3 linked regions of the Homo sapiens genome follow. The protein of the gene in region 2 binds, or shares a complex with, the protein of the main gene of each other region. Each region holds a gene or a part of one and is shown on either strand. Other genes may lie near its edges. The genes, in order: CNOT2, CNOT6L and CNOT11.

Region 1 (7,683 bases), on a different chromosome or scaffold from region 2:
CTCCCAAAGTGCTGGCATTACAGGTGGCTCTCTGAGCCACCGTGCCTGGCCTTTTCTTTTGGACAGAGTCTTGCTCTGTCACCCAAGCTGGAGTGCAGTGGCATGATCTCAGCTCACCGCAACCTCCGCCTTCCGGGTTCAAGCGATTCTCCTGCCTCAGCCTCCAAGTAGCTGGGACTACAGGCGTGCACCACCACACCTAGCTAATTTGTTTGTATTTAGTAGAGACGGGGTTTCACCATGTTGGCCAGGCTGGTCTCAAACTCCTGGCCTCAGGTGATCCACCCGCCTTGGCCTCCCAAAGTGCTGGGATTACAGGCATGAGCCACTGCACCCAGCCTGCTTATGACACATTTCTAAAAGAATCGCTGGGTCAAATGCACATGGCTCAAGGCTTTTGATACATATTGCCAAACTGCACTCTAGAAAAGTGCTGCCAACATACACTCTCAGCAATATAAGCAGCCCTGTTTCTCTGAATCCTTGCCAGTATTATCAAGAAATAACCACTTGTTAAAATAGTGCCTGAAGACTAAATTAATGTTTAACATGTTTTGTCACTCATAAGTTGGGCTTACTATTAAACTTTTAACTGTTATAGTATTACCATTCAAAGCTTACACATATTTAAGATGAAGAAACTGAGGTCTAGTAAATTATAATTCAGACCCCTTTTAGTGTGAATTTTAGCCCTGGATATACTGCAGTGCAGTCTTTTTTTTTTTAACTTGTACTAGCCTTACAGATTTCCCAGAAAAAGGTAGACATCTTCTTTATTAAGTTGGAGGTCAGGAATATCCTATTAGTTTAGTACTGTTTTTCCTGTTTCCTAGATTGGATTTTACAAATTTTGTGTTAAGGATATCTGTTGACATTTACTCATTTATTATTTAAAAAGTCTAGCTAATCTTGGATAAGAATTTTGTTGATTCATTCACTCACTAATTTAACAGCATTTATCTAATGCCTACCATGTGTGAAGGATAAAGTAGTGGAAAAAAACAGGTGTAGTTTATATTTTTGTAGGGTGAAGGGAGGTAGAAAATAAACAGTGAATAAACAAGATAATGATAAATTATAAATGCTATTAAGAAAATAGAGGGGCACGTGATTGACAGAGAATAAATGGGAACGTGAGCTATTTTAGATACGGTGGCCAGGGAAGGCCTGTCAGAGATATTTGGGTTAACCTGAAGGAAGAGAATGAGTCAGCCATATCCAAGACAGAAGACCACATCCCAGGCAGAAAAAAAATAAATAAATAAAAAATAAAAAGCAAGTGCAAAGGCCCTGAGACAGAGTATCAGGTAAGATTAAATTCAGTTGAGAACAAGAGACTCCAAAATAGTGGCTTTAATAATATAGACATTTACGACTGCAGGGCTAGCATGGTGCTCTGATCCATAAAGTTCTCACAGACCCTGGTTTCCACCAGTTTAGTTTTGCCATCCCTAGAATGAGAGAACTTGCATGAGGCACAAATTGGCAGCTACAGTTCTAAGCCATCACATCTATATTCCACGGTACAGGATAAAGGAAAAGCCGCATTGAAGGTGTGCACCAACTATCTTTTAAGGATGGTTTTACAAGTGTGCCACATGATATACTGCTTACATCCCATCAGCCAGCACTATTACATGGCTACAAGGAAGGCTGCAAAATATAGTCTTTGTTCTGGGTAGCCATGTATCCATGTCTATTACTATGAAAAAAATGGAGGAATTTTTGGGGACAACTAACAGACTCTGCTACAGACTAGAAAAAGCACAGCCCACGACAGAAAGGAGGCAGTAAGAAGGGTGAGAACAACTTCCTGTGCTGCTTCCTGGGAAGATGGAGAAGTGGGCAGGAGCCAGATTATGCAGTCTTGAAGGCTATGGTAAGGAATTCCGATTTCATTCTGTGTGCATAAGGAAGCTATTGGAGGGTTTTAAACAAGGGAGTGACATAACCTAATAACATTTTTTAAGTGATTGCTTTGGTTGGTATATAGAGAATGGTTTAAATGGGAAAATATTCATGAGGGTACAGATAGAAAGTGATAGCAACTAGTGTGGTTATTGCTGTGGTCCAGCAACAGATGATGGTGGCTCCCAAGGGTTGTACCAGTGGAAGTGATAAGTAGCTAAATTCAGAATGTATTTGTCAGGAAGAACTGATGGTACTGTCTGATGAGTTGTATGAGTGTGAAGAATCAGAAAATTCCAAGTTTTATGCCTGAGCAAATAAGTGAATGGTGGTACTATTTATGAAAATCAGGAATTCTAAAGGAGCAGCAGATTTAGGGAATGAACAAAGGGGATTCAAATGTTGTTTCAGACACATTAGAGAAGCCTGTCCTTTTTATCCCTTGCCATGGCAAAATTTTCAATACCATCCATATTTTTCTAAAAATGGGTGGCCTCCTTCTTCTACAAGTTATACACAAACTCATTCTTCCCTTAATAGGGTATTTTTTTTCCCTCAACGTCTGTAATTTTTAAATAAAGTGTACAGAGAATTTAACATAATACATATTTTGGAAATATACAAAACATGTGCCTATTAGTAAGGACTACTTTTCAGGTAAAAGTAAGAAAATCTAGTAAGATAGTTAAAAGAAACCAAACTACCAAATGGGCAAACTTAATCAACATTACCAATAAAGATGAACTTTTTGATGCAACAGGACAATTTAAAAAATATACCATCTATTGGTAAGAACTCTTACTATAAGAATTCTTACTATACAAGCCTTTAACAAATGCTAGCTCATTAAATACCTAGAGTACCCTCTAAGGTAGGTATTAAAAATTTTTTAACAAATTTATAATAGATTTGGCACAAATAATAGGACAATTAAAGGCTTGTTCTTCAACCCGGCTTAAAGTGAATTCATCCTAAACAAATAGGTGTTCAGTGAGAGTCAAAGTAAGTAGTATCAAATATTGAAAGTAATAGTATCAGTGTATTTTCTCCTAACACTCCTAACCCACACATTTATTATGAAAATGTTTGTTGTTCTATCTCTTCCAGTAAAATACTCAAGGTAATAAAACTCTCATATCAGACTTACACCCTCTGGAAGTCATTCCATAGAGGTATATTCAATCTTTTAACACACCATCTTATGGTTGAAGATGTTAACATGAGAAGGAGGAGAAAGCAGGAAGAGGAAGGGACTATTTGCAGAAGACGGGGAGAAAGAAAGGAAAGACACTAGTATGTGTTGTTCCTCCTCGAATTTTCCTGAAGTGAAAAAAAAACAGTGAAGTAGAGTGTTTGATGAAATGAATAACCAAGCAAAACATTTTCTACCTACACCAGTACCACTAGGAGTTGAAATAAATTCACACAATGTCTGCTGATATGTCAAAACACCTTACCTTCAAAAACATGACAGTTACCTTTTATTTTATAGTATGCTTGTGTTTCTTCCTATTTCTTGCTTTTGACCTTCAATGATAAATGTAAACTGGATTACAGTGATTCTTTTGTAAGTAAAAGGTGACTTTTTAAAAGAAACAACCAATGGAAATAGAAATTTTATTTACTTCAAATTAACTGTACTTTACTCAAATAGAAAAGAATAATTTTCACATTATGAAGCTACACAATTCCAAAATACACATGCTGAGGCTCTTTTTAAGTCCGAATTGTCTAGTAATTACAAAAAAGTGAAGAGTTTACAGATATACAAGGAAATAAAGGCGAATTATTGCAAAGAAAACAAGTTTAATTTCACTTTGAATGACAACGATTTTTCTGGAAAGCAGATACTTCACTCCTTTAAGTTTCCACCCAAGCCACAATAATTTCAAACGGTCTTGCGGATGACCCAGCTGGTCACTCTTGTTTATGTGGGGACTGGAGGTAATGAGAGCCAAAAAAAGTGCTATAAACCTAATTTGGCTAGAGCAAGTTCACACGACACGACCGTGCTTTAAAAACTTGCTCTCCATTATGTACTTCCTTCCATCAGGTTGGGGAAAAAAAAATGGTGGGGATGGTGAGTAAACACACCAGTGGTTTCATCAGAGGGGAACTCACTACTCAGGAGGTGACGGTGACGTGGTGCCGGTCCCTGAAGTACGCGCACAAGCTCCGGAGGTTGCGGGAGCTGAGGGAGGAAACAGGGACACGATCAGATTCGCTCCAGGTGGCGGGAGTGAGGAGGGGAGGAGTGACGAGGCGGACGTGCGGGGGCGGGGGTGTCCAACACAAACACAAACACAAACACGAACACGAACACGCTCAGCGTCCCCGGGGAGGGCGGACTGAAGCCACCTCACCATTCATCGCCCCTGGACCCCGCAGTCCCCCTCGGACTCAGGGCCAGAGCCTTCTGCGAAGCAACCTAGCCCCAGGGAAACGGTAGCGGCCGCAGAAGCCCCGCTCTCTGTAACGGCCGCGGAGGAGCAGCAAGCCTCCCTGTGAGTCGGTGGGAGACAAGACGGAGCGGCGGTAAGGGCGGTAGGGAAGTGAAGCGCCTCTCTCCACCTTGTTAGAAGCGCGCTGAAAGCGGCCTGCCTACCCACCCCATCGCTGCCGTTTTGCAGTCGTCGCTCCCACCTTCCGCTGCCGCCTGGAGGGAAGCCGGAGCGACGGGGGTCACGGCGGCGGTCAGAGGGTAAAGGTCTTGCTCCCAGCAGCCTCCGCGGTGGATACGTCGCCATCTTGGATCCGCGGGACAAGAAAATTCATGCGGTGAGTTTTTGGTAAATTTTCGGAAGTCTGGCAGCGGGGCGCGCGGCGGGGGCGGCAGATTCGGGGCCCCCGCAAGGCGGGGGAATGCCCCGGGGCCGGTCCGGTCGCGCCCAGGGTCCGCCGGTAGCGTCCCGGCCCACCGCTTCCCGTTGCTTTTGTCTCGGCTCCAATCGAGAGACGGAGAGCGGAGCGGGCGGGGAGGGGGGTGGCGGCGGTGGAGGGAGGGAGGGGGTGTGTATGGGGGTGGTGGTGGACCGGACGTAAAGCGTCGCTGTACTCGGGCCGCTGCAGCAGCAGCAGCTCCAGATCCTAGGCCCGGTCCCATCCGCGAGTGGTGGGGCTTCCCCAGACTCCACTCCCCTAGGCTCCCGCCAGCGCGGAGGAGCCGCTGCCGCCGCGCTGCTTCCTGGGGGAGAAGAGAAGGCGGCAGCGGCCGTGGCCGTGGCCGACGAGCTCGAGCCCGCTTTAGACGGCTCTGCCGCCTTCCCGGCAGCTGGTGCTGTCTGTGGCTTCTTACCTTCTCTCAATACACGTATATCATCTGCCAGTTATGTGTATTTCTGTTAGTGTGTTTGCAAGTGTCAGATGGGAGACACTGGACTGGCTAACGGGTGTCAGGATCCTGCAGGCCCTGGGATACCGAAGGCTGTGCATGGTGGAGGGAGAAGGAATGCAACTGCGATGCCGCCTCTGCCACCGCACCAGGAAGGTGAAGCTTCCGTAGTGTCGTAGACTGAGTCCGGATGATCCTGGGGCGGCGGAGGAACCACAGACGCTTCTGTCTGTGAAGTTGCAAGTCCTGGGTTTCTACTTCCGCAGGGGCCTCTCCACCTTTTGCTGTCGTAGGTCTCGCTTAAAAGTTTAACAGAAGAAAAGAGTAGGGTTAAAAGAGGCCTTTGTAGTTCTTCATTGAAGCACTGTTGTCTGTCCGGGTGAAAGCTGATAACTCTTGGTAACTGTGGTCCTTAGCAAAAGAGAATTGGAGTTTTCTTTTATACAAAGTATTTCCAAGGTTTTAGACCTTATATTTATTCCAGGCCTGTAGGTACGGTATTACTACCACAAAAGTCTTACATTAAGGGTACCACCCTCTCAGAGGGAACCTAAACATCAACTTCCTTCGAATCCTTGGAGACATCTTCACTTTTCAACATCCGGAAGACTGAGTGCAACATATTTTGTTTCATTTTCATAAAAGTCTTGGTCAGAGAATCCCACTCCTTTTAAAATCGTTTGGGCAATTCCTCATAATTAAGTACACTGCTTTGAACCCTTAGTTCTTGGCGAAATGGTAAAAAGTACTCAGTTAAAATCAGTTCACGAGGGAGGCCAACTTGAATTTAAGGTTCAAAGTTGAACATATTTAGTGTCATGCTTAATATTAGGAATTTTTAGAGCTCGGAATCATAAGTGTGACTGTTGATTTCCCTTTTGAAGCAATATAAATGGAAAGAATAAAGTATGGGGTGAGGGATGAGATAGAAATTTTAAAGTATCCATTTACATGCAAGGTTGATGTTGAGTTTGGGAATGCTTGGCATAATTGACAACAGTTCTTTCCAAACGTCAATGAATAAATCTCACAATTTTGTAAGGTAACTATTGCAGATTGAAAGGGTTAAGAATCATAGTTGGCTGAAATGGTTAAGTGTCTATATTCACATCCCAGTTCATTGAAATGTTTTATAATGGACCAAGATAATTAGTAAGCTCTGTATGTTGAATTTGTTTAGTTTGTAGTTCTATTATAATGTTAAATCTAAAGAAAAAAATACAAAATACACTTAAAGACAAAACATGTTCCACTCTACTCACTTATTTCTTGACTTTGTAAGATCCTTACTGTAAAAAAGGTACTTTTCTCTCATATTTTCTGAGAGCTTGAATTGTAATAATTTTTGTGAATACTTTGTATTTTAGAGAGGAAGTGAGAAACTGCTGAAGTTTTTTTTGCATCTTGATTAGTGCTTTATCAATACAAATAAGTTAATGTAAACATTTGTTGGCAGGAATCTTTTTCTAAGTATACAATGTAGAGATATCTGTAACCTAATCTGATCTCAGGGAATGAGAATTGCCTGTTTAACCAAGCAACAAATACAGCCTATACAATTTTTCAATTTCTATAATACTTTAATTTACATGGTGGAAAAATGAGGGCAAAATGCTTGTGTATGAGTGATTTATATCCCCAAGTACCTGCTCTTGAAGATAAAACTCAGATTGTGGCTTATCTTCTGATGCTGGGCAAAAAACAAAAACAAAAAAATTCAGAATGATACAACTTCCCATATACCTCCCTACAAGAACTAATTACCTTTGTTTTTGCTTTATAACTTTGGATGTTGCACTTTTTGATTTTTCAGAGATGCTTTACAGTTATTGTAATCTGAAAATTATTTGTTCAAAAGTAAATAAAATTTTCAGGTGTATGAATAGATTTTATTAGAAGTGATTCTAACCCAGTTCTCATTTGTATTCCTTTAGTAGATACTGGTGTTAAAAGTACCTGTATTTTGAAAGACCATTACAGAATTTTTTACAACCTGTATAAGTTATAGTTTTATCTTTTCTAGTGACAGACTTACTTCATAAGATTTTCTGATAATATGAATAAAATGTATGCTTCACATGTATATATGAAATAATGAGTAAGCATTAATAGACCAATGAAAAGAACTTAGCTTACAATTTATTTTCTTGCTCTTTAAAAGCAGTGGTAAATAATAGCTTTTTTTTGTTGTTAAAATTTGTAACTGTAGAAAGTTCATTCTGTTGGGATCACATATTTGAAGGCAAACTAACAATGCCATGTGCTTGCTTGAATAGGCATTTGAGGACAGGTTATTTTCCTGAGATTTCAGGAAAATATACCACCAAACATTTATGATGTTATTTGTTACCTGGATCTGTAGTGGATTTTGTAACACAAAGAGGCAGAATATCCAGGGTACCAGGTAGGGCAGTTTAGGGGCAGAGTTAATATGAGGTGTACTG
Region 2 (7,166 bases):
TGAGTAGGATCTGAGTGCTGAAAAAAAGTTACTGTTAAAAATGCATTTTACTTCTGATGCATAGAGGGATGTGTATAATACTTTGTGGTGGCTAAGGGTGATTTATTGCTTAAAAACATGATAAACTATATGGAAATCAAGCCTAGATAATGAAAAAGGTCCCAGATAGAAACAGAGTATAAGAGATGAGTGGTAATAACACTTAGGTAGTTTTTACTTCTGTTTAAAAATTGCTGGTTCATTCTCAGGCACTGGCAGGGATATAAAGAGTTTTGGCTATATTATAAAAATTGCAATCTCTGATCTTTTTAATGAAATCTCAGTTTACAAAGTCTTAGGAAAAAACTGAATGAAGCAAATGGCAGTCTGCCTCTTTCGCCTTACTTCCAAATGACATTTCAAATACTGAGAAGCATAGTAAGGTAAATTCAGGGTGCTTACTTCACAGTGTAGTGGCTTGGAAATGATGCTGGGTCATTTCCAAGATAAATACTCAGAAAGTACAAAAGTCAACTCAAATTGAAATTTAGCTCCCAGTGTACAAAATGGTCACCAGTCAGACCCCCCAGGGGACTGAACTGAGTTTCTCTTAATACCTTTTCCATCATCTGAAACAGAACCAACTTCAATCAAGTGTCACTTCACTTTGAATTCCTCACGTCTTATTTAAATAAGTGATTCTCAACCATGTCTGTTCATTATAATCACCTGGGATGCTGGGATCCTTTTTAAAAATACGAATAGCTAGACTCTTAATATTTCAACTTAATTAGTCTGGAGTCAGACCCTTACTTCAGCATTTTTCTTTATAAGGTCTACAAAGTGATTCTACTAGGCAGCCAAGATGGAGAATTACTGATAAAAATCAGGGCTTTTCAGACTTTAACATGCAAGTGCATATGAATCACCTGGAGATTTTGTTAAATTGCACATCCTGTCCAAAAGAGGTGTTTATGGGGCCACAGATTCTGCATTTCTAAATTCCCAGGTGATTGATTACTGATGCTGCTGGTCTTCACAGCACAGTTTTGAGTAGCAAGGATGCAAACCATCTTCTACTATTAGTTTGCTCACAGTCTTTTTATAGTTAAAGGACATTTAAAAATGAGCATTTTATTTCAGAAATGAACATTTGATTGACAAAAACGATTCTCTTACAACTAAATTTTGTTAGTCCATACTCTTCTGCTTCAAAGTAATGATAGCAGTAGGAGGCACAAAAAATACTTAGATATTTTGTTAATAAGAGGTAATGAGATTAGAGTTCTTTAATTAAAATGCAACTACAGTTTACTTTTGTTCCACTCATTTAAAGAAGCTTTTCTCAAAGTTATAAGCAAAAAATTAGCAGATTTAAAATTTAAATTTTTTATTAAAATAAATTTCCTTAAAACTCTCAAATATAAGCTGTTAGTCTAATTCTAGACTTAATAAAATAAATTTTGTATGATAGACTCCAATGATGTTTTAGTAGATTAGCAATCTTTATCTTGCCTAGGCATTTTACAATGATGATATGTGGCGTATGTGTGTGTGCTTGTGCAGGTGTACACATGATATTGCTTTAGAAAAAGTTGCCTAATTTTCTCCCGTTTGTCTGTTGTTTTTTCTCCCACTTCTTAGCATCATTCACGGTTATGTGTTACAATGTGTTATGTGATAAATACGCTACCCGGCAGCTATATGGCTATTGCCCATCCTGGGCATTAAACTGGGAATACAGGAAAAAGGGAATTATGGAAGAAATTGTTAACTGTGACGCAGATATCATTAGTCTTCAGGTAACACCATAGAAATTAAACTGTCTTTAACTTAAAAGGTGAACTTAAACATAAGAGAAGATCTGACCACTGGGAGAGATCCTGTGTTTAGAGCCAAAGCTCAAAAAGAATTGTTTTCTCTCCTCTTAAAAATAATGGACAATTTAAATAAGCATTTAAGACATTTCCATAGTGAAACTATTTTGCTGACTGAATACAACCACCTACTTATATTTATTTACTGTTTTCTTAAGTGGAAATAATCTTACCCGTTCATGTTAATATTCACCTCATGATCATTGGTATTGCTGAAAGAGAAAACCACAGAAGATTGCCAGTCTTTTAGGAATATAAATTTACCTTGTATTGGAGTCTGTTTTTTTTTAAAAAAAAAAGCTTGCCCACAGTTATTCCTTAAACAGACATATTTTAATATATTGTACTATAAATCATGCATATTTGCCTTACCTTACTTTATAAACCATCTCTGAAATTTAGATTCTTCTGTTTTATAGCACTTTATAAATTGAACTTTACTGAAGAAGCAGCATCTTTTCATGAAATGTGTTCTGTTGCTTCAAAATTTAGCTAATGATTAGCCAAAAAGATGTTTGAATAGTTTTTAGTAACTTTTTTCTTAGCAACTTTCAAAACATATTAAGTGCTTAAAGGTTTAAAAATTTTTAATTGACAAATAATTGTATATGTTTATGGGGTACATTGTGATGTTTTGATACATATATATTTTTTTAAATGATCAAATGAGGCTAATTAACATATTCATCAACTCAGAAACTTACTATTTCTTAAAGGTGTTTAAAAATGTTGTGTGTTACAGGCCGGGCATGGTGGCTCACGCCTATAGTCCCAGTACTCTGGGAGGCCGAGGCGGGTGGATCCCTTGGGGTCAAGAGTTTGAGACCAGCCTGGCCAGCGTGGTGAAACCCCATATCTACTAAAAATGCAAAAATTAGCCAGGCAAGGTGGCGTGCACCTGTCATCCCAACTACTTGGGAGCCTGAGGCATGAGAATTGCTTGAACCCAGGAAGCAGAGGTTGCAGTGATCAGAGATTGCACCACTGCACTCCAGCCTGGATGGCAGAGCGAGATTCTGTCTCAAAAAAAAAAAAAAAAAAAAAAAAAAAAAAAAAGTTGTGTGTTACAATTTCACACATTCTTTTCATCATAGCCTGAGAGGAAAAATTATTAAAAATTTTTTTATGTAACAGAGTAGCTTGATAATTTATTTTTAGGTTGCTTGGGAAAAAAGTAAAAATCTTTTAAAATTAAAATAAAATTTCTTCTAAATACTGAGACTAACAGAGAATTGGGGAGAGGAGGCGGCAAACAAAATCAGGCTATTGTAGTTTCTTGTCTACTTCTTGGTTTAGTATTTGTAGTGATAACAGCCTCACACCCTCCTAAATATAGCAGTTTGAAGGATAGAACATAATTTAAGAAAATTGTCTTATTATAAAAGCAATGCTATAATACTATACTGTATTAAAAAGAGATCATTCTAGAGAAGTTGAAAATTTTGAAAAAATATAAAGCATGATGGAGGGAAATACCTAATTTCATGTCATAAGATAGTTGTGTTAAAACTTCTGGAGTATTTTTCTTCTATACATTAAGTAAAATATATTTACAGATACATTTTGATTCTTATTTATTGTACTTAATGGATTTTCCATGTTACTAAAATTCTTCAAAACTCATTAATTATATGAACGTATATTGATGTAGCTTTTCCCATACCATTGGACACATTTAGTTGTTTATGGGTTTTTGCTGTCATAAACTCATGCTGTTAGAAACATCTGCATACATAAATTATCTTCATATTTATTTCATTTAGAAAGACCTGTTAAAATATTTTATGAGTCAAAGAATAAAATAGACTAATAATTATTAAATTAATAGAGGCCATTGGATGATTGCGATTTAGGTACTTAAAAATTTCTTAAAGTAGAATTTTTTGTGGATAGATTTTACGTTTCTCACTCTTGGGTATCATTTCTTTCCACCATAGTTCAGAAGGATATGCAAGTTTTTAAATTACCTTTTTATATATAAATTACTATTCCCTATCACAGAATCTATCATATACCCAACTTGCTTTGTTTAGTTGCCAGTCTTGAGGAAGTAAAGTATAATGGAGTGAACTGTAAATTGGGAATCAAGAGACCTTGGGATGTAGTCCTACTCCTGTTACTATCTGTGTGAGCATGAGAAAATCATGTCACCTTTCTGGTTCTTTCATGTTTAAAAAGCTGCCATTGTCAAGTAGCAGCTGCTAGCAATCAGGTAAGATAGTAAGATAATATTTGCTATGTGAATTATTTTTACTAAGTTACATCTTACTCATAATGCTGAACATTTTTATATCTTAATCAGCATTTTCCCTCTGTCATATAGATGATAACTTTTCTTTCATCTCAGGAAGTGGAAACAGAGCAATACTTCACTCTCTTTCTGCCAGCATTGAAGGAGCGTGGATATGATGGATTTTTTTCTCCAAAGTCACGTGCCAAAATCATGTCTGAGCAGGAGAGAAAGCATGTAGATGGTTGTGCAATATTCTTCAAAACAGAAAAGTAAGTTAAGGAAACAAAGCACAATGGTGTACTTTTATTTATTTAAATGCTTACACTTTAAAATTGTCTTTGGTTTTGCCCTATAAAATCAACAGAAAGCTAGAAAACAAGTATTATGCAACTTAAAACTGTTGTTAATGTTTCATTTCTCAGGCTGTGTATTCGAAATAAGGATATTTATTGTATTATTCCTTATGCTTTTATTACCAAATAACACTGAACATTTTAAGAGATACAGACTTGAATGGTCTCATATTTCAGAACATATTTTCATGAAGTAAAGTATTAGTTTTTGTGTAAAAAAAGAAAGTGATACCTTTTAAGGTTGGCCATAAGTGATCTGGGTTTCTTTTCTGTGATTTTTTTTTAATAATTGATTTTTGAGAATCATTCATTTTAAAATCATTTATTCACTAAATGTATACTGAGCATTTGCTTTGTGATAAGTCCTGTGCTAGACACAACAGACACAAAGATAGTCAAGACATAGTTCCTAATCTCACTGAAAGCTCAAATCCAGTAGGAAAAACTAGGCATATAAGACAATTGCAATATCATATGGTGTAATATAAGATAGAGGTCTGCCTGGGTAGATAAGAGAGGCAGGCACAGAGCATATGGAGGTAGAGAGTTAAAAGGGTTGACTGAGACAGGGCAATGGAAAATGAAACGTGACATCTGATAGAGGTTGAATCCCATGGTTAATAGTTTGGATTTCATACGTTAGGAAATCATCTTACAGGATAAGCATATACATGCTTACAGCTGTTTTCCAGTATTTCCCCATTTTACATCTATTTTACCAAAGCCAATCTGTTTTTATTGATCCAAGCATATTACCAGCATGACATGCTATTTTAAGTAAACAAATTCAATGAATTTGAAAGATATTTGGTCCACTTCCCATTTATCTATGCCTACTTTCCTGTCTTTTCCATGAATTTGTAGTAGAGATATTCTTATTTTGGTTAATAATTAGTACAAAGCCTTGTAGTATTTGAGGTCAGAATATACTAAATTCTTCTAATGGTTTGGTAATTTTTTATGCATTTTAGAATAATTCTATTAAAACTACGTATCTCTTAACTACGGGAATATGTTCTGAGAAATGCATCATTAGGTGATTTTGTTGTTGTGGGAACATCATGAAGTGCACTTACACAAACCTAGATGGTACAGCACTATACACCTAGGCTATAAGGTATAGCCTGTTGTTCCCAGGCTAGAAACCTGTACAGCATGTTACTGTAGTAAATAGACAATTGTAATACAATGGCATTTGAGTCTAAACATATCTAGACGTAAAAAAGGTAATGTATTGTGCTGTGATGTTAAGACACCTACATCATCACTGGGTGATAGGAATTTTTCAGCTCCATTATAGTCTTGTGGGACTACCATCGGCATGTAGTCCCTTGTTGACTGAAATCTTGTTATATGGTATATGACCGTACTTCCAGAGTGTTTGCCATCTGTCAGCCTTTTCGAATTGTTTATATTAGTTGTCTTGTTCAAATTTTAAAGCAACTCTTACAGGCAGCTATACAGCTATTTCCTTGTTTTTAAAGATGAGGAAACCAAGGTACAGACAAGTTCAATAACTAGTTCCAGTTACACAGTCTGATTTCATAGTCCATGCTTTTAACTACTGTAATAAACTGAATCTTTAGCCTTCTTGTTTGAGCTTTTGATATCACTAATACCTCTTATAAGATTACCTCATTTAGAAAAATTGCCCTGAATTTGACATTTGTTTTTGTTTTTAGACAGGGTCTCAGAGTCTTACTCTGTCACCCAGGCTGGAGTGCAGTGGCGATCATGGCTCACTGCAGCCTCAACCTCCCCAGGCTCAGGTGATTCTGTCACCTCAGCACCCTGAGTAGCTGAGACTACACGTGCATGCCACCACACCTAACTAATTTTTGTATTTTTTGTAGAGATGGGGTCTTGCTGTGTTGCCCTAGGCTGGTTTTGAACTCCTGGGTCCAAGCAATCCACCCGCCTCAGCCTCCCACAGTGCTGGGATTACAGACGTAAGCCACCGTGCCTGACGATATTTGTTACCTATGTTCATACACAAATCCCCTTGAAACACCATAGCTTAAAAAAAAAATGCACCAGTAAACTTGAGACATCTAACATCAGGCTCTTTTTCTATTTGCTATAGTTTCTTTCAAGATAATATGGAAGATTTTTATTATTACTCTCACAGTTTTGAGAGGAAAAATCTAAAATTCCTTAACAATTTACTAGAAGTAGTTAAGGCTTTGAAATAACAGTTAGAACTGTTATCTGGGTATTTGCAAATTGATTCTTGAATTATTAAAAATGCTGTGAACTAGTTAAGTAATGAGCACATAGGAAGTACTTAGATGTGTCACCTGTTTTTCTTTTCTTCCTCAACTCTTTTTTCCTGAATAGTAACATGGATCTGGCAACAGATTGAATGTGATACATCAGTATATTGTACCTCTTTTCAACTTCTTTCCTGGAATGACAGGACTATATACCTCCTATAGGTAGAACAAAACCACCTTCTGTCCCAGTACCAGATATTTATCCATGTCTTAGCTGACTATTCAGTGCCAACTATTTGGAATTTAAAGTATTATACCCTGCCTTTATTCTTTCTTCAGACTGGAAATATAGGGCAAAAAAAGACTGTGAGTTTTGAAGCCAGGTGCTTCTTCTATTTATTTAGCTATATAATGTTGAAAGACTTAGCATTTCTGGACCTGTTTCTTCATTTGTATATTCTTATCTTGTAAGATCATTTTTGTAGAGGTTACAAAACTAACAAAGATAACT
Region 3 (7,000 bases), on a different chromosome or scaffold from region 2:
CCAGCACTTTGGGAGGCCAAGGCAGGCAGATCACTTGAGGCCAGGAGTTGGAAGCCAGCCTGGCCAACATGACGAAACCCCATCTCTACCAAAAAATACAAAAATTAGCCCGGCATGATGGTGCACTCCTGTAATCCCAGCTACTCAGGAGTCTGAGGCAGGAGAATTGCTTGAACCTGGGAGGCGGAGGCTGTAGTGAGCTGAGATCGCGCCACTGCACTCCAGCCTGAGCAACAGAGTGAGACTGCCTCAAAAAAAAAAAAAATAGTGTAGAAGTTGAGGGATTTTGTGCAACCGGGGTGTAGGGTACATGGATGGGAGAGAAGGTCAAGAAGTGAGATTAGGAAGGTGTGGTGGGACCAGATTTTGAAGGGTCTTGTAATGGTGTAGAAATCTGGGTTTAATTCTGTGTACACAGGTTAAGTAATGTGATCAGATTTGTACTCTAGAGATATAACTAAATGGTAAGAGGAAGTATGGACTATGGGTGGTGGGTGAGCAGGGGTCAAAACTGGGAGCTGGGGAAGTCAGTAGAGGGGGCAGGAGTAGTCCCAGCAAGAGAGGCGTGGGGACTACATCTGAGGGAATGCAGCCTGGTGACATTTCTGCAGTGGGAGAGATGAGGCTTCATGAGCAATTAAACATGGGACAAAAGGGAAGGAACATTCAGCCTTGTGGGAATTTGTAGCTGCATTGTGTGTTGAATCAGGTAGTGTATTTGGATAGCTGCTGGTTGCTCTTCTATTTATTCAACTTCTACACAGTGGAAACAGAGAAGAAAGAAAAGCATTTCCGAGCACTATAGTGTTGTCTGTTTTTGTTTGCATATATAAGCTTTAGCCTTTGCAGGAATTGAGGCACTTTAGAAAATGCAGTTATTGGGCCAGGCGTGGTGGCTCACGCCTGTAATCCCAGCACTTTGGGAGGCCGAGGTGGGTGGATCTCGAGGTCAGGAGATCAAGACCATCCTGGCTAACACGGTGAAACCCTGTCTTTACTAAAAAGTACAAAAAATTACCTGGGCGTGGTGGCGGGCGCCTGTAGTCCCAGCTACTCGGGAGCCAGAGGCAGGAGAATGGCGTGAACCCAGGAGGCAGAGCTTGCAGTGAGCCGAGATTGCACCACTGCACTCCAGCCTGGGCGACAGAGCGAGATTCCATCTCAAAAAAAAAAAGAAAAGAAAATGAAGTTACTAATGTGAGAGTTAAAGAGGAAAGAAACACCAGGCGGGGCACGGTGACTCATGCCTGTAATCCCAGCACTTTGGGAGGCTGAGGCGAGTGGATCACCTGAGGTCAGGAGTTCAAGACCAGCCTGGCCAACATGGTGAAACCCCGACTCGACTAAAAATACAAACATTAGCTGGGCATGGTGGCAGGTGCCTGTAATCCCAGCTACTTGGGAGGCTGAGGCAGGAGAATCTCTTGAACCCGGGAGGTGGAGGTTGCAGTGAGCCAAGATCATGCCATCACACTGCAGCCTGGGAGACAAGAGTGAGACTTCATCTCAAAAAAAAAAAAAAAGCCACAAAACGCAGCTTGGCAGTCAAAGACAGATTTTCTTTAGTTAGAACCTGAGAAGCACTCCTGGCCGATGTTTTAACTAAAGAAAACCTGTCTTTGACTGCCAGGCTGCGTTTTGTGTTTCTTTCCTCTTTCTTTAACTCTTACAGTTAACAAGTACAAAAACCTTAAGTTTCATTTGTAGGGCCACAGATCATAGAATTTCAAATGACATATTACATAGTTTGTAAATGTATATATTTGGTTGACTGAAACTTAATCATAATTTAGTTCTTAAAACTATGTGGCTTGAAGTGGCAAGTAGCAAGTACTGATTTTACCAGATTCAAGTTGATTTTTAAAAGTAACCATTGGAGAAATCGTTATACATTTTTGTTTGCAGGATTTTTACCTCCTATAACTCCACCAGAAAAGTTTTTTCTTTCCCAGCTGATGCTGGCACCCCCACGGGAACTCTTCAAAAAGACGCCTCGCCAGATTGCACTGATGGACGTTGGAAACATGGGCCAGTCTGTGGACATTAGTGGGCTTCAGTTAGCCTTGGCCGGTAAGGAGGAATCAGTGTTTTGGGCATTTCTGTGTGGTAATATTAGGCCTCTCTTGTTGAGGACTCTACTAAAATGATGTTTTTTGTAACTGCTAAAAGGTTAGTATCATCCATTTTAAAAAGTAGTTTTAGTACTGGATCTTAAATGGAAGTCTTGGCTGGGCACGGTGGCTCACACCTGTAATCCCAGCACTTTGGGAGGCTGAGGTGGGCAGATCATTTGAGGTCAGGAGTTTGAGACTAGCCTGGCCAGCATGGTGAAACCCTGTCTCTACTAAATATACAAAAAATTAGCCAGACATGGTGGTGCAGCACGCCTGTAATCCCAGCTACTCAGGAGGCTGAGACAGGAGAATAGCTTGAACCCGGGAGGTGGAGGTTGCAGTGAGCTGAGAACAAACCACTGCACTCCAGCCTGGGCTACAGTGAGACTCCATCTCAATAAATAAATAAATAAATAAATAAATAAATAAATAAATAAATGGAACTCTTTAAATTTTTGGATGCTAATAGCATGTAAATTCATTTGGAGTTTTCACTTGAATTGATTGCTTTTTCTGTTTTAGAAGAAAGCTGGATAAAATTTAGTGGGTTTTTTTTTAAGTTTTGATTGGAAGACTTACTATTTGTTAAAATGTCAATACTACCCAAAACAATCAACAGATTTGGTGCAATTCCTGTCAAAATTCCAACAGTGTTTTTTGCAGAAATAGAAAAATCCGGCCAGTCACAGTGGCTCACACCTGTAATTGGGAGGCTGAGGCACAAGAATCACTTGAACCTGGGAGCTGGAGGTTGCAGTGAGCTGAGATTGTGCAACTGCACTTCAGCCTGGGTGACAGGGCGAGAGTCTGTCTCAAAAAAAAAAAAAAAAAGAAAAATCCATCTTTAAACCAAAGAAAGGCTGGCATAGTAGCTCATGCCTGTAATCTTTGGGAGAGGCCAAAGTGGGAGGATCGTTTGAGGGCAGGAGTTCAAGACTAGCCTGGGCAACATAAGGAAACTTTGTCTCTGCAAATAATTAAAAACTTAGCCGGGCGTGGTGGTGCATGCCTGTGGTCTCAATTACTTGGGAGGCTTAAGTGGGAGAATCACTTGAGCCTGGGAGATCGAGGCTGCAGTGAGCTGTGATTGCGCCACTGCACTCCAGCCTGCACAATATCGTGAGACCTGTCTCGGGATGCTGAATAGCCAAAACCCAACGTTCTCTTGGCATCCTTGTTGAAAATCATTTGCCCATATATGCAAGGGTTTATTTCTGGGCTTTCTATTCCATTCTATTTGTCTATATGTCTGTCTTTCTGCCAGTACCACACTGTTTTGATTACTGTAGCTTTGTACTAAGTTTTGAAATCGGGAGGTATGAGACTTTCAACTTTGTTCTCGTTCAGGATTGTTCTGGCACATTCTGTGTTAAACCTGTAAGCAAATGAATGAGTGCTCTTGAAGTAAACAGTGTGTCCTGACAGAAAATAATAGGAGAAGGAGAACTGGTGGTCAGAGAGAGGCTCTCTGAGTTCTGAAGGAGTAGAGGAGGCACTTTGGGCTTGCCTGCTGTCAGCATTCATTTTCTCACTTGAGAGCAACTCAACAGGGAAATTGTAATATGTAGCTGGGTTTGTGAACCCTTGACTTTGTAATTAAGTAAGCTGAAGTATTTTGACAATGCCCCATCCTTCTTAGACTTCATAAACCTGTGACATTTGGCTTCTGATATAAGGTGACATGTTGCAGTAAACAGCTTTTCCTTTGCAACATTGTGAACCTTTAAACTATTGGGTATTAACAATATAACAATGGGGCCAGGCACAATGGCGCATACCTATAATCCCAGCAGTTTGGGAGGCCAAGGCATGAGAATCACTTGAGCCCAGGAGTTTAAAACCAGCCTGGGCAACATAGGGAGACCCTGTCTCTACAAAAGTAATTAAAAAAATAAAAATTACCTGGGTATGGTGGTGTGTGCACTTGTGGTCCCGGCTACCCAGGAGGCTGACATAAGAGGATCACTTGATCCTGAGAGGTCAACGCTACAATAAGCCATGATTGTACTACTGCACTCCAGCCTGGGCAACAGAGTGAGACCCTGTTACAAAAGCAGAGACAAGAACAATGTAACAATGGTTATGTTCTGAAACCAAAAGAAATCTTTTTAAGACTTTTTAAGGTTGTACTAATAAGTACAAAAGTACTAGCCACTAGTGCCAGATATAATTTAATAGAAATAAAATGATTACTTTTATTTATTCCTGACAAACACCAAAGATACTTTGAAAACTGGATACAGAAGTGATGTATTCTGATGGTTCTAGCTTAGTATTTATTATAATATTTATTTATAGTATTTAAATAGTAATTTTTTTTATCATAATAAAGTGAGAATCACATCTGACCTTCCTTTTAACTTGGGATGCCTTGAGTAGCCGTAAGAAAGTTGTGAAGTATATCACGTGGAGGAAGGATCACATGTCTAGAGTAAGGGCTGAGAAGCCTGGCCGAGTGGCTAAGCTTGCTGCCTGCCGTCCTCTACCCAGATTGCAGATGTCCGGATCCATTCCTCTTCACAAGTGTAAAGAAAAAGCAAGCATGCCTCCACTCTGGAGCTAGCCACCCAGATCTTCTCTCTGGAGGTCTAAAATTCAGATGTCTTCCAGTGGCATCCGTGGACCAAAGGTGTATTTTTGGATGATGCAGTTTGTGTTTTCTTAACTTTAAAAAAACAAGTAGACAAGTTAAACATAAGTGACTACAAGGGGTGAAGTTTTACCCTAACAATGAGTTTTCATTTCAGAGGTTTTGTTTTTCTTTATGATTTATTCCTGACAAACACCTACCACTTACTAGTTTACCAAACAGCTGGCCAATTTATCTTTTTTTTTTTTTCACATTTTGGTTGATAATATGTTATCTAACTTTTTGTACTTCAACAATCTGAGATTTTTTTAAATGGCATTACAGGATAATTTTAGTGAGCATTTCTCCTAGTAAGTGGATGAGAAAAGATGCTATATGTCTAAGGCATCTTTTCATATGTCTCTGGCCATTTTTCCATTGGGTTGATGGTCTTTTATTGATTTGTATAGTTCTTTAATCAGGAATTTAGCCCCGTGTTTTTAAAATTACACAATCTGAAGTGAAACATGCATTCACTTTTTAAAGGAATTATAATTAAGTGAACCAGGAGCAACCTGCCATCCAAGTTAAGAAAGAGAATATTTTCAGGGCCTACAGGCTCCCTGTTTCTCCCAGTGGCTGCCTCATCACTAACCTGATTTTTGTGATAATCATCCTCAATTTGCTTCCCTCCTGTGCCTGCCTATAGTTTCACTTTGCATGCCCTTGAACTTTATACATGTGGAATTGTACTGCATTTATTCTCTTGTGCCTTCCTTCTGTTGGGGGTTGACAGATGAGTCCATGCTGATGGCGTGTAACTGCAGTGGCTGCCCTTCATTGCTGCTGTGGTACCTTCACACTGTGGAGTACCAAGTTCTGTGTCCATTCTGTTGTTGATGGACATAATACTGCTGTGAACATTCTTGCACATTATTCTGGGGCGCGTGTGAAAGTGTGTCTCCTAGATGGAAAGAAATGCACATGTAAACATTATAAAGAAACATCAAATTATTTTCCAAAGTTGCTTTGCCATTTTTCACTCCTGTAGCACCATGCAAGTTACCTTACATCCTCTTCAGCATTTGGTAATGTCAAGTTTATACATTTTTGCCAATCTGGTGGGTATGTTATAGTATCTTGTGTTTTAACTGGATTTTCCCTAGTTCCTAATGGGATTAAATATCTTTTCAGATTTTTTTGGCCATTCAAGCTTTTTAAACAAAATCCTTATTAAAGTTACTAGTCCATTTTTTCCTGTTGGTTTCTTTCTTTCTTTTTTTTTTTTTTTTTTTTGAGATGGAGTCTCGCTCTGTCGCCCAGGCTGGAGTGCAGTGGCGCGATCTTGGCTCACTGCAAGCTCCGCCTCCCGGGTTCATGCCATTCTCCTGCCTCAGCCTCTCGAGTAGCTGGGACTACAGGCACCTGCCACCATGCCCGGCTAATTTTTTGTATTTTTTTAGTAGAGACAGGGTTTCACCGTGTTAGCCAGGATGGTCTCGATCTCCTGACCTCGTGATCTGCCTGCCTCGGCCTCCCAAAGTGCTGGAATTACAGGCATGAGCCACTGCGCCTGGTGGGTTCTTTCTTTTTTTAAAACATTGATTTAAAAATATATGTACAGTAAGTCATCACTTAACATCACTGACGGGTTGTTGGAAACTGCAGATTTAAGTGAAGTGATGTACAGCAGGTCCTTGAATAACACTGTTTCATCAACATTGTTTTATTATAACATTGATAAAAATAGTTGTTTTGTTACACGTCACTTCACTTAGTGGCAGATTCCAAGAACCTTTCAACAACGCTAAGTGAGGACCTGCTATACGTACAGACATACACACATTTTCTCTCTCTCTCTGAATCTGGCCCTTTGTTTTTCTCTGTTACAGATAGCTTGCCTCAGTTGGTAGCTTGTCTTTTCTCTCTCCTCATGATGTCCATAATTTTAAAATGTCTCCTATTTCCAGAACGCCAATCTGAATTGCCAACGCAAAGCAAAGCGAGCTTCCCCAGTATTCTCAGTGACCCAGACCCGGATTCTTCTAATTCTGGATTTGACAGCTCAGTTGCCTCTCAGATCACAGAAGCTTTAGTCAGCGGACCAAAGCCACCTATTGAAAGTAGGTACATATAAATTAATTTATACTCTTTGTTTTATTCTGTCAGCAGGATCCTCTAGGACTTTTCAGTTTTTGAGACATCATTTTATTTTTATTATGACTTAAATTGTAATTTAGTGTGAATCTTTCTAGTGTAGTGAGTGTCTAGAACATAGTAGAGATGTTCAGTGACAGTTAATTTCTTCTTTAAGAAA

The links.
Region 1: CNOT6L (region 2) and CNOT2 share a complex: the UniProt entries of both Homo sapiens proteins name them as parts of the CCR4-NOT complex.
Region 3: CNOT6L (region 2) and CNOT11 share a complex: the UniProt entries of both Homo sapiens proteins name them as parts of the CCR4-NOT complex.

What each region holds. Positions count from the first base shown.
Region 1 is NC_000012.12:70,238,795-70,246,477, forward strand, and holds the start of CNOT2 (CCR4-NOT transcription complex subunit 2), read left to right. Parts: upstream 1-4,638; 5' UTR 4,639-4,686; intron 4,687-4,946; exon of another isoform or gene 4,947-5,528; intron 5,529-7,683. UniProt on the Homo sapiens protein: Component of the CCR4-NOT complex which is one of the major cellular mRNA deadenylases and is linked to various cellular processes including bulk mRNA degradation, miRNA-mediated repression, translational repression during translational initiation and general transcription regulation.
Region 2 is NC_000004.12:77,739,333-77,746,498, reverse strand, and holds part of CNOT6L (CCR4-NOT transcription complex subunit 6-like), read left to right. Parts: intron 1-1,623; coding exon 1,624-1,781; intron 1,782-4,179; coding exon of another isoform or gene 4,180-4,203; coding exon 4,204-4,358; intron 4,359-6,295; coding exon of another isoform or gene 6,296-6,391; intron 6,392-7,166. UniProt on the Homo sapiens protein: Has 3'-5' poly(A) exoribonuclease activity for synthetic poly(A) RNA substrate.
Region 3 is NC_000002.12:101,255,886-101,262,885, forward strand, and holds part of CNOT11 (CCR4-NOT transcription complex subunit 11), read left to right. Parts: intron 1-1,905; coding exon 1,906-2,070; intron 2,071-2,929; exon of another isoform or gene 2,930-4,156; intron 4,157-4,463; exon of another isoform or gene 4,464-5,987; intron 5,988-6,653; coding exon 6,654-6,806; intron 6,807-7,000. UniProt on the Homo sapiens protein: Component of the CCR4-NOT complex which is one of the major cellular mRNA deadenylases and is linked to various cellular processes including bulk mRNA degradation, miRNA-mediated repression, translational repression during translational initiation and general transcription regulation.